3 separate regions of the Homo sapiens genome follow, and regions 1 and 2 are each reported to be linked to region 3. The links are microRNA targets in miRTarBase. Many come from high-throughput screens and were not tested one by one. Region 3 holds a microRNA gene; each other region holds the end of a gene's coding sequence.

Region 1 (4,000 bases), not on the chromosome of region 3:
TATGGTGGAGAAAATGAACACGATGCCTGGACGTTAAGTGCTCAGTAAATAGTAGCACTGCCATTTTCCCAAGTGGAGTGATTTCTTTCTCCTCCAGCTTCCCAAGTTTAGAGCACATGTCCCAGTTCCTCAGTGCAGTGTCAGTCACATGGATTGCTCCAGAGCCCAGCAGGCCCTCCCACCTCATCCCTGTGCTGCCCCAACAGCCACCATGGCCACCGTAGCCTGAACGGCAGCCACTCTCCAGTCAACTCACCCTGCCTCCACTTTCTCTTCCTTAAAATGGTTTTGTTACTGACCACTGCAGCCCCCCACATTCAAAAGCCTTCAAAGAGCCTCCACTGCTTAGAATAAAAAAATGGGGAGGGGGCCTGCCTGGAGGGCCTGCCAAAGGCCATTAACTATGGCAGGTTCTCTGTGCACGTGGCAATCACAGGCTTACTAAGTGTTTAACAATTAAGTGCTTTATTGGGGTTTGGCTTGGAAGGTTCATCTGACTTCCAAAAGGACAAGCTCATGTCCTTTCTCCTCTCAAAGCTTCCCAGACCACAAAGCCCTCTGTGGTCACTCCTTTCACCAAAGCACTAAAGCACCCTGGTGAGTACAAGTATGTGGTCGAGAGCCTCACCCTCAGGTAAGTAAGCATTCTACAGCTCTCCTTCCCCTCACATGGGCACGTGATATGCTGGTCCCACCCCATCTTTTCTCCATCCCTAGCGCAAAGGCCAGTGTGGAGCACAATCTAGGTGCTTGTCAAATGTTAATTTAAGGGCCTCCTTCACGTCCTTCAAACCTCTCTCCACTGAGCCCAGTCAACCATAAGGCCCAAGTACAAAATCCTCAGGAAGGGACAAGCCTCATTTTCCATTCAAGACAAAAGGAATGGAGTCTGCTCCTTGGTGACAGCCCCAACTGCTTGTCAAACCACTCTGGCCTTATTAGGCCAATCTATTGGAAGTACTGCTGGGAGAGGCTGGCCCCACTGGGACAGACGCAGACTCCCGTGATGGCAGAGAATGCCGGGCCCGGGAATGCATACCCAGAGACACTTCCCCAGAAGCTCGTAGGTGCCACCGCTCCTCCTCTTCACTCCAAGCCAGATGCAAAGAATGGGGGAGTGAAAGTTACTTAACTGATCTCCCCCAACCATCTCATTTTATCCAGGAGAAAATGGGGGCCCAGGACTAAGTGCTTCTCCAAAGGTCAAGGTGAAATAGAAAAGCCAGAGCTTCTATTTCTGTGGTAAGATGCATCCCCTTCAGTTTCCTGTGACTTAAGCCTGTCACAAGGCAGGGGCTCAGGATCGCCCTCTGATAGGAAGTCAGGGCCACCATGGGATGGGTGGTAACTGATGAGGCATCCTTTCAGGCCTGTTGATCCTTCCCTTGCTTTCTCCTGAGGCCAGTTTCCCTCCCTAAATGTCTTAGATGAACAAAAGCTCACTGCCACTTGTAGGACACCTCGTATCATTATGCCAAGTTTCTACCCTCAGGCCCTCTTTATATTCCCATCTATTCAGAACTGGTATTTTAAAGATCCCAGAGCACCTGCTATGTGCCAGAGACAGGAGCCAAGATGAACTGTGCTGCACCACTGCACACAAGCCTCATCCTGTCCTCTTGGTTTAGATATTGCTCAGAACCTATTGTTGTATTCAACTATACTTGCACTTGCTCCTATTTGCCCTACATGGGCGTAACTCCTTAAACCAAGCTTTGTTCAGAATTCCTCTGATTGATCATTTAAGTAAATTTAAAAGTCAATTTAAGGAATATAAAAACTGCATAATTTCCAACTCAAGAGTATAAACTTAGATCACTCATTAGCCTCTGGTTGAAAACAGTAATCGTGATTTATACGGAATGCTAAATATCTATGTTCTAAGTGTGCTCTCTTGCCACAAACCCATTTAATCCTAACAATCTTAGGAGGTAAGTTGAGGTAGGCTGTTATTGTTCTCATGAATAAGTTTGGTAAAACCCCAATCTCAAGATACAGCCCAAGCAGCAGAGGCACATGCGTTAGCAACACATGGACCCCACCGCAGTATTAGCAATCATCTTTTGCTATAAGTGCTTGGCTTCCAAGAGCTTTTATACAGATGTCTGAGAGGCACAAAATATGTATAATTAGGCTATTTCTCAAATAGCACAGGAAAGCTGCCAAAGGCGTTCCCTGAATTGAGAGGCAAAGCACTGACAATGGGGACTATTACAGCCTCTGGATACAAGATGACGTATCTGCCAACCTTAACCACCCGAGTCAAATGCTACTTTAGAAATAATTAAGGTTCCCTTTAGTCATTTCACAGGAGTTGCTACAGCAGTACATAAAGTTTTATTAATATTCTGATTCTCGTGTCATAGCTTTTATGGCAGGAAAGGATGAGGACATGCCCCACCTGTAACGTAGAGCAAGCAAACCACCAAGTAGAATCTTGAGATTCTCTCTCAACTGTTCTCTAGAAACACGCTTGTGCTTTTAATCTGCCTTTTAAAAGGGACACAGAACAAAAAATGGTTGTTTGCAAATAAACATCTGAAAGAAAGTAACAGCTGACCTGGGCTGAGGCATCCAAACAAAGCAGTCATTGTGGAAGGAGACAATGCAAACCACACTGGGGCAAGAAACGGGGCAGAGAACGTGCGGTCATTTGTGCGTTGGGTATTTCTACCAGCCCCAAAGGCCCCATCTGGAACAAGTATCAACCAGGAGGGGCTCTATGGCTTGATTTATTAACCTAACTCAAAAGAAGTCACTGCCACCAACAGCACTGTGCAGTTTTATTAACCATTCAAGTCCAGTAGCATCTGGTAAGATTGGGACAGAATTGGGATTGAAAAGTGAACAGATATTCAGCATCTAACAGTTCAAAAGAAGCCACTACATACTCTTTTCACAAATATGTTTTCACAGAGCCAATACAGTACTAGCCATTAACCCAGTACACCAAGTGTACTGAAGTAGAAAAGATGCAACAAGAAAAATAGCTACATTAGAAAGACCAACACTTTAGAAAAAGAGTAAAACACTTTCAGTTTCTCCCCTTTAGCCCCTAAAACAACATCTTACAGTCTGGATCTGGATCTACCTATACAGTCCTACATTAGCTTCTAAAATATTTGTCAGGAGGGAAAAAATAAAATGACACTGGCCAGTACAGTCTTTGGATATTTAGGAAGGGGATGGGGAGAAAGTCAGTTCTCAGAACAAATTAGTCAGCTTCAGTCTCGTCAGCAGGGTCTTTGGATTCTTTGTTCTTCCGCACTTCTTCAATGTGCTTATCCTGTAAAGGAAGGGTAAGGTGTCATCAGTCAAAAAAAAAAAAAAAAAAAAAAGCCTGTCAAGTCACGACCCCCAGCCCCCACCTCAAAGAGGCCCAACACAACCTCAGTGCATATATTACAGCCTGTGGGAACCACACAATTTAAGTTCTGAGACATCATCATCAAATCTCCTGGGTCCCTTGTAGAACCTAACAAGCTGCCTACTGGACTTCCAAGGACTGTGCAATTATGCTGGGAATTACTGAATATTCCATCTTAAAATATACCTTTCATTTAATATGTTAAGCCCCAAAATGGATGACAAAAAGACACCAAACACCTTTTATCAAAGCACTTAGTTCAAGCCAACTCATTGGTGCATCAAACTCCAAGCTCAACCCTTTTACAAAGTAAGAAACCAACCTTCTCTCGCAAACGTTCCAGTTTGGCAGCCATTTGTGCCTCTCGGTTCTCTTTATTAGCTTCCATTTTGTGGGTCAGTTTCTCTTCTGCCATTTTACTGAAGTTGTTGTTCTCTTCTATTGCCTTCTGAAGCACTTCTTTCTCGTGCTCTCGTTTCTCAGCCAGCTGCTTCAAGACCTCAGCTTCATGGGACTGGAAAAAAAAGTTTAATAGGCTAGGCACTCTAAAATGTATTCAGGCTGGGTGTGGTGGCTCACGCCTGTAATCCCAGCACTTTGGGAGGCCAAGGTGGGTGGATCATTTGAGGTCAG
Region 2 (4,000 bases), not on the chromosome of region 3:
CACAAACTCCCGGAGGGCAGGGACGACGTTTTGTTCATCACTAGCTCCCCGGCACCTGGCACCATGCCTGGCACAACATGAGCACTCAATAAATATAATTTATTCACCAATTCACTCACTAAATTGGCCAGCACTCTACTCTGCCTCAGTTGTTTCTAAGCACTGCTCTGCTTCCTCCCTGCTCTCAGCAAAGTCAAGGGCGATGAGCACATGCTGTCTCTGGGCACCAGGTGATTAGTGGGCAGAGCTGCCGCAGCAGCATTGCTGAAATGGTCTCAGACGCTGCCTCTGACCTTGAGCCACCTTTCTTTGTGCTTGGCTAAGCACTGAGTCATTTACTTGTTTTTGCTGCCTTTCAAGCCTGGAGCAGTGGGTTTAGCACAAAGGAAGACATGATGGTTGTTTTGTTTACGGGAATCGATTTCCCTTGAATAATAATTCAATGGGTAGTCTGCACTGCATGGTGGCGTGGTGACAGGGCTGTGGAGGAACATGGCAGAAGGCTTCCAGAGTCAACACCAGGTCTCTCTGAGCCTTTGAAAAAATGTTTTTCTTATAAACACTGGCTGCAGCAGAAAAACTATATCCTGAAAGTCAGGAGACTGGTGAGTCCCAGTTGAGCCACAAGCTGGCCATGTAGCCCTGGGCAAGTCATTCGTGTTGTCACTTAACATGTGCTATCTCTGGGCATCTTTCCTCACCTTAAAAATGTGACGATGGCCTCAGTTCCCCTCCAGTGCCACTGTGGGTAAGTCGCTACTGCTGTAGGCGGCAGGGTTAGGGAGAGGCACCTATAAGCACAGGCTGCTTCCCGGACGATGACAGCCTCCTAGAGCATTTGTCCCTGGAGGAGGGCCCCGTACTATCCTGCAGGGGCATCTTGGTCAGGATCCCTCATGTTCTGGTGTCACTGTCTGGGAAGCTAAGACAGAGGTTTGGAGCACAGACTTTGGGGCTCTACAGATCTGGGTGCAGTTCCCTCCATTGGGTGCCGTTCCCTCCATTGGGTGCCTGACCAAGGGCAAGTCCTGGAATTGCTTTAAGCCTCTGTCTCCTCATCTGTACAATGGGAGCCTCCTTACCCAAAGGGGTCTCATGATGATTACAGGAGATAATATAGGGAAAGTGCTTAACGTAGCTTGATAAATGCTAGCTAGTATAATGAGAAATATTAATTATGGTTTAGATCCATTCATCATGAATGTCCCCCCAAAATAAGGACATTGTACAGACGCTGAAGATTTTTACAAAGCTTCTAGTTGTAGAGATGAGGAAACTGAGACATTGAGGGAGAGGAAGGACTGGCCCTAAGACCCACAGGCAGGAATATGGCCAGCAGCCAGGTGTCCCAACTCCTCTGTGGGCTGGATCCCGATGCTCCAATCCTCAGCTCCTACGAGGGCCCTGGCTGGGGCAGATTCCAACCTGCAACACCCTCAGCTGTGGGAATCCTGATGTCTGTGTCACCAGGGAGCCTCCCCCAAACACTGCCCATCTGGAACATAACTAGTACCCAGAGGGCTTCCAGTAGAGGGCTCTGTCCACAGCAGGCACTCAGTAGAGCCCCAGGCATGACTTGACCCAGTCACATCTTTGCTCTGGGCCTGTTTCCTAAAGTGGAACAAAATGGTCTTTAAGAACCTTCTAGTTTTTATATTCCATGGTTTCAAGAACTGGGTTCAATTAACCATGCAGTGGCTAGAAATCTCAGGTAACTGGAATCTTTCCCAGAAATTCCCTCCCTGGGAGAAATAGGCAGAGCTCAAGCAAGTAATAACCATCCACTGTCCTTTGCAGTTCTTCCTGGTTTAGCAGGTGTTTGGGATCATTTCATCCCCTTGGCTACTCCCCTACATTCCTGACCAGCAGACTGAGACTCAGAGCCACCTGAGGTTTTCCCAACCAGGACCAGAGCTCAGAATGCAGGTGAGAGTCAGCACTGAGAACAGTGTTGTGCACAGGGCACAGGTTCCACAACAACCCCCCCACAGGAAGCCCAAGCCAAGACACAAAAGTTTGGCCAAGAACGGAGCCCTGGATCAGGAGCCTGGAGGCCTGGGATAAAGCCTGCACTCTCCACGTCCCTGACTGGCTCAGCCGGGGGGCCTGTCAAATGAGGTGATTGGATAGCAGATCCCACTCCCTGATAGACTCTTACAGCTCCTAACCCTCCCAGAGCACCCAGCACGTGGGACTGGGTCTATAATCTCTGGGCCCTGCACCCCCAGAAGACACAGATAATGCCTTTGTTTATCCTTATGTCTTCCTAAGTCCAACCACAGACCAAAGCAGAATAGGCTTTCCAGAAATGTTTAAGGGGAGGAAGAAAAGAGGAAGGGAGGGAAGGAGAAAGGGGAGGAGGCAGGGAGAAAGGAAGGAGGGAGGGAGACAGGTTGCCAGGCAGGTAGGCTGAAGTCCTCCTCCCAGCACTAACATCCTATGATTCCACAAAGCTAAGTTCTAAGGCAGTTAGTTCACCAACAGTGTCTCTTAGACACCATCCCATTTATGGTGGAAACACCACAGGGAGAAGCAAAGGGAATTAATTTCAGATGTGAAATGATATGTGAACCCCTCTCTGCCTAAGCCCAGCTGACTGCCCCAAGCCCAGGCCCTGGGGTCTGCTGTGAGAAGTCCCGCCTTCACAGCGGAAGCCTCAGTGATGCTGGTGTCGGAGGCCACAACTCGTTTCTCTCTGCTAAGCTCACCACCTGACATGTCAGTGCTTTCCAGCCCAGAGCCTATGGTTCCGACTGAGGAACACGATACAGCAGGATTCTGCAGGATTCAGAGACATGAGAGGAAGAGGTCTTTATAAATAACTCCTGGTTTAAATGGAGCTGAAAATAGGAAGACAAAAGAGGAAGCCAATTGCTAAGCACTTATTGAGTCAATAACATTGGCTTGGAAGCCATAGTGCAAGTGGCTGGTTTGGTTTATTTCCTTCTCATCAAAAGAGCTAACGCAGGATTGAACCTGGGGGCACCAAGACCGCATGTGTGTCCGAGGATGTGTCTGAAAGGATGTGGTGCTTCTCAGATGATGATGTCTCGACTAAGACATAACCCAGGCCTTGGGTTAGATCTCTCGGTGTCACAGAAGAACCTGTCGGGTGGTGTGGCTTGGCTGTTAAGTCCCTGGACCTCTTGAGATCACTTTCTTCACTGGAAGGTCTAGTCACTGGGTTGGCTTCTAAGCTCTGAGATTTAGATAGCAATTCATAGCTAAGTCTTCGATATAAAACACAGGAACCAAAAGTGTGAATAAAATCTTGACTGTGCTCAAGTGTCCTGTGAAGTGTCCTGTCTCCACTCTCAATTCCATTCTCTGTAGGGTCTTCCTTCAGCTGCAACAAGGGCCTGCAGTTTGTGCTCTCTCTCGGATGACAAAATTGGGTGGAAATGTGCTTTATTCACTTGCCGTCCCCAGGGCCCCTGATCTTGGGGTGTGGCCCAGCAGCATGCTAGCCAGGGCAGGTGGACGCACTGGGCGGATGCACCGGTGGGGGCCAGGCCAGGAGGCTCAGCACAGAGCTGACTCTGCCCCGGTTCCTAACCCTGCCTCCCTACCCCAGGATCCAAGTACAGAGCTGAACAATGGAGGGAGAGACAGCCTGAACGCCAGGACCCCACGCTGCCCGGTTCGGGGCTCCCAGTTCCACCAGGAGGGACAGCAGGAGAGGGGGCGCCGCTTGCCGGGCAGCCTGGCTGGCAGCCATCAGCAGCAGCTGCAGGTGCCCGTGTGCACGCGGAGGATGCCTCGGCTGTGCAAGTGCAGGAAGTTGAAGATCTCAGAGGGCATGGCGTGGAAGCCGGGACGCGGCTTGACGTTGTCATAGTAGTGGTGAGTGATGTAGAGGCCCGAGGGGTTCATGGGGAAGGCCCAGAAGCCAAAGAGGTGCACCTCCTCACAGAGCTCCAGCGCCGCAGTGACCAGAATGAGGCCGGTGCTGATGCGCTTGGCGCGCACCCCCAGGCTGAGCCAGTAGCGCGACACGTTG
Region 3 (4,150 bases):
TAGCTGTTCTGACTGGTGTGAGATGGTATCTCATGGTTTTGCTTTGTATTTCTCTCATGATTAGTGATGGTGAGCATTTTTTCATGTTTGTTGGCCACTTGTCTTCTATTGAGAAGTGTCTGTTCACGTTCTTTGTCTATTTTTAAATAGGGTTATTTGGTTTTTGCTTGTTGATTTGTTTAAATTCCTTATAGACTGGATATTAGACCTTTGTCAGATGCATGGCTTGGGAATATTATCTCCCATTCTATATGTTGTCTGTTTACTCAGTTGATGGTTTCTTTTTCTGTGGAGAGCTCTTCAGTTTAATTAGGTCCCACTTAACAATTTTTGTTTTTGCTGCAATTGCTTTTGGGGACTTGGCCATAAATTCTTTGCCAAGGCTGATGTCAAGAGGGTATTCCCTAGGTTTTCTTCTGGGATTTTTATAGTTTGAGGTCTTACATTAAAATCTTTAACCCATTTGTAGCTGATTTGTGTATATGATGAAAGGGTCCAGTTTCATTCTTCTGCATATGATTAGACAGTTATCCTAGCACCATTTATTGAATACGGAGTCCTTCCCCAATTTATTGTTTTTGTCAGCCTTAGAAGACTGCCTATATTTCTAATTGATTACTCCTAATGGGTTTCAACTTAGCCAGAAGGATATTTCCAAAAATCAGATCAATCTTATTATAACTCTAAACCTGGCATCTGACTTCTCTCAGTGTAGACCAAGTAACAACACCAGACATAAGGAAACAGTGTGTATTAGGTGATTCAACCATAACACCTCACTATCACTAATACAGCATAAGCAAAGACATCCCACTCCTCTACCATCTCCCCCTTCATACTACATAGACATCCACACATGCACACACGTACACACATTCACACCCCCCCACCCACAACATGCACACACCCCTTTACATCATCATCAATACAACAGGCACTGGGAAAAAGATAAAGAGAGGGAGAAAGCCAACAACACATCCAACCCTATCCATATCGACACATAAACCCTGTTCAATACGTATACTATACAGAAGCCCTGCACAAGCTTTTAAAAAAGGAAAGTTTTACTACCCCAAATTAAGACTATTTTTAATCAGAAGTAAATAAAAAGTTATTTGTCAAACTGAGATATCACTGTTTCTTGTTGCCCAGCAGGGAAGGAATTCAACAAAGCAAACCTGGCAACAGTTATTGAAAAAAAAAATAGAATTGTCTTACATTCACAAACCATTAACTTGAAACTTCTTCATCAAAACTTTTATTTGTGCAAAGGCCTAGAGGTAAGAATAATCATGATTTATTCAGAGAAAGAAAGAAAATTTCAGAATGTTTGGAGCAGAGAAAACAAGAGAGAAGGAAAAAAGATGGGATTGAGTGGCTAAATGAAGGCAGTTTATAAATAACCCCCAAAGTATTATTCTAAATGTAATGGGGGATGATATTTAATCAGGATAATGCTATGATCTGACTGGATTTTTGGAACCATCCCTCTGGCTCCAATAGAAACATTTTTGGAAGTAATGAATTCAAAATACGGAAGACCAGAAAGGAAGGTGTTTTGAGACTAAAGACAAAAGATGATTGCCTGAACTATGATAATAACAAAAGATGAAGGTAAGCAAAAAATAAAAGGAGAGCCATTTTATCAAATAGAAACACAAGGCTTGATAACTGATTACATATAAAAAGTAAATGAGAAAAGGGCAAGTCATGGAAAATTATTGGGTATTTGGCTTTTATAATTAGGTAGATGGTGGTAATTTCACTGATAAAAAGGACACTAAAGGGGGATATTTATAGGATTTTATGTGGTGATATCTACTAGGTGACTAACAAATTAGATCTGAAGCTCTGGAGAAATATCTTGGCTGAAGATATAGATTTGAGAATCATGATTGAAATTATATAATTGAATTTGTGAGTATGAAAAATATAATCCTCAAAGAGAGGCTACGTGAAGCAAAAAAATAAAAATTCTATCTAGGCTAGAATCTGGAAGAAAATTCATATACAAGAGATTAGCAGAAAGCAGGGAAATTCAAAACAAACTGGGAAAAAGCAGAGTAATTAGAGAAAGTTTAAAAAATGTAATAATAATAGGGAAAAATATTTCACAAAGTAGGGAATATTCAAGATTGTATTAGGTTGGTGCAAAAGTGATTGTGGTTTTTGCTGTTACTTTTAATGGCAAAAACTGCAATCACTTTTGCACCAACCTAATAAATTTGCTGCACAGAGATCAAGTCAGTTGAGGATCAGTTAAAGAAATTATTGGTGACTCTGGCAAGAGCACTTTCAGTGGTGTAGCATGGGACTGGTCTATCAAAACTGCCATCTTATAATCATTCATATAAAACAACTAACCAATAATAAGAATATGGAAGACAGACTCGGCCTGTGTGCTTTGGCAACTTTAAGTTCCTTTGGTACTGCATATGCTGATCAACAAAGTAAATGATATTGAAGGTGTTGAGAGTATGGATACTATGCAATAAGAAATTACCCACAACACAAATGTACCAGAATTTGATTTGACGTGGAAATTTTACAAAATTTGTTTTGGGATTCAAGCTTGCTCTTTGGAAGAATAGTGAAAGACTTACTTATCATCTCCGGAACTCTAAACTTGCTGATGATCAAGGATGAGACAACCAAAATTATTATCACCATAAAAATATTAGTTAGAAGGATTGCATATCATTCAAAGTGTAGTATTACTACCTAAACATTCACTTTCAAATATATTCAAAATTGACTTGGAGTAAAAATTAATATCCATATATGCTTTATATGTTGCAATTCTTCCCAGAAAATCTTATCTTAGGGTCCATTTCACCATCAATATTTACAATGGCAGAGCTCAAAACAGAATAGCTTGCTCCTCCTTTGATCTAAATTGAAAGTGAGAGTCTACTGTATTGGGATTACACAGGTTTAGTGTATTGACCTCCACTGAGAAGGCTGGGAAATCATTGTGTTGTACAGTAATGTCAAATTATACACTTTGACTTTGAGCATTTTTAATGACAAAATTAAAATAAAATGTGGAAATTTTAATATTTATTCTTTTTTCCCAGAAGTTCATGCCATGAAGTGATATTCATCTTCAACTTCAACTTAGGCTGAATATTGACTTTAACCCTTGGCTAGACATTCAGCTAAAATGTGTAATTTCGTGGACCCTACCCAACAGTGTTTCATGGGCTTTTTTAGAAGGGTCTGCAATGTAGCATGCTTGCACAACAGTAAGTAATCAAAAAGCAAGATTCTTGACAAGAAAGTTAATGTGTTTAATTAACATATTAAGCAATCTACAGTAGCCTGAAATGTGTTAATGAAAATCATCTGGGGGAAAAATAAAAGGAAGCCCAGAAAAAGTCCATATGCCTAGCTGATGTGCTAGTTAATTCTACTCAAGGAAGGTTTTCTGTGAAGATTAGTGTAGCAAGAAACAAATCCCTCTGAATTCATGACACGATGCATGCCAAAAGAATAAGGAATTTGGGATTATAAAAATGCCTTATGGTGTGGTTATAGGTACAGGAGAGAGAGCAAAGATAACTAACAACACAAGATTGAGAGAGGATAAATAAGGCAGAGCCCTAGGAGGGATTGGCCTTGGGTAAGAGAGGTCACTTCCTTTCTGGTAACTGATATGAAAGAGATAGGATATCCTTGGCTTTGATCTTTGTTCTGTTTTGCTTCCCTTTGAGGATTGAATTAATTTGAAGCTGAGCTTCTGTCTTTTTTGAGTTTGTCTGTTTCCAGTTTACCCACACAACTCTGGTGTAGCTTTGAAAGATTCAAATTCTAATTCCTATTCTTCTAGTCCCATGATTAAGCCAAAATCTCTGTTCAGCTCTTCAGCCTCTCTGCTGCTTTCAAATTTACAAATGCCCTGAAAGAAAAGCGATGCCTAATGTCATGCTCTCTGCCCTTTCTTTCTCCCTGGAATCTTGAATTCACAAATCTTGGCAGCCTCAGTAAGATCTCAGATATCTTCAAACGATTTGTTGTTTTCTTTTCTTTCCCCTTTATTCAGCTATTTTGGTTGTTCTCAGAGAGAGGTTTGATCCAATACAGCTAGTTGGTTATCTGTCTAACTGTATTTTTTTCTACATTACATATTATCTCCATACACCTCCTTATC

The links. Region 3 holds the annotated microRNA hsa-miR-548az-5p (CAAAAGUGAUUGUGGUUUUUGC, at 2,152-2,173, shown strand). A microRNA usually pairs through its seed, bases 2 to 8, with sites in the 3' UTR of a target mRNA and lowers its output. Matches are read on the target gene's strand: a 7mer-m8 pairs with bases 2 to 8, a 7mer-A1 pairs with bases 2 to 7 and ends in A, and an 8mer does both.
Region 1: the mRNA of STMN1 is a reported target of hsa-miR-548az-5p. Seed matches in the 3' UTR shown: 7mer-m8 at 2,840-2,846.
Region 2: miRTarBase lists ST8SIA5 as a target of hsa-miR-548az-5p. Seed matches in the 3' UTR shown: 7mer-m8 at 3,254-3,260.

The regions. Positions count from the first base shown.
Region 1 is chr1:25,897,802-25,901,801 of GRCh38, forward strand. STMN1 (stathmin 1) reads right to left here. Exons shown (of 5, transcript NM_005563.4): 4 at 3,690-3,881; 5 at 2,315-3,286. The coding sequence ends at 3,215. Among named protein-coding and RNA genes, the nearest start is that of STMN1, 6.6 kb to the right of the region's middle.
Region 2 is chr18:46,676,325-46,680,324 of GRCh38, forward strand. It overlaps ST8SIA5 (ST8 alpha-N-acetyl-neuraminide alpha-2,8-sialyltransferase 5), which reads right to left. Exons shown (of 7, transcript NM_013305.6): 7 at 1-4,000. The coding sequence ends at 3,718. Among named protein-coding and RNA genes, the nearest start is that of LOXHD1, 21 kb to the left of the region's middle. RefSeq lists enhancers at 1-483, 484-1,329.
Region 3 is chr8:119,323,039-119,327,188 of GRCh38, forward strand. MIR548AZ (microRNA 548az) reads left to right here and starts at 2,133; the gene lies at 2,133-2,227.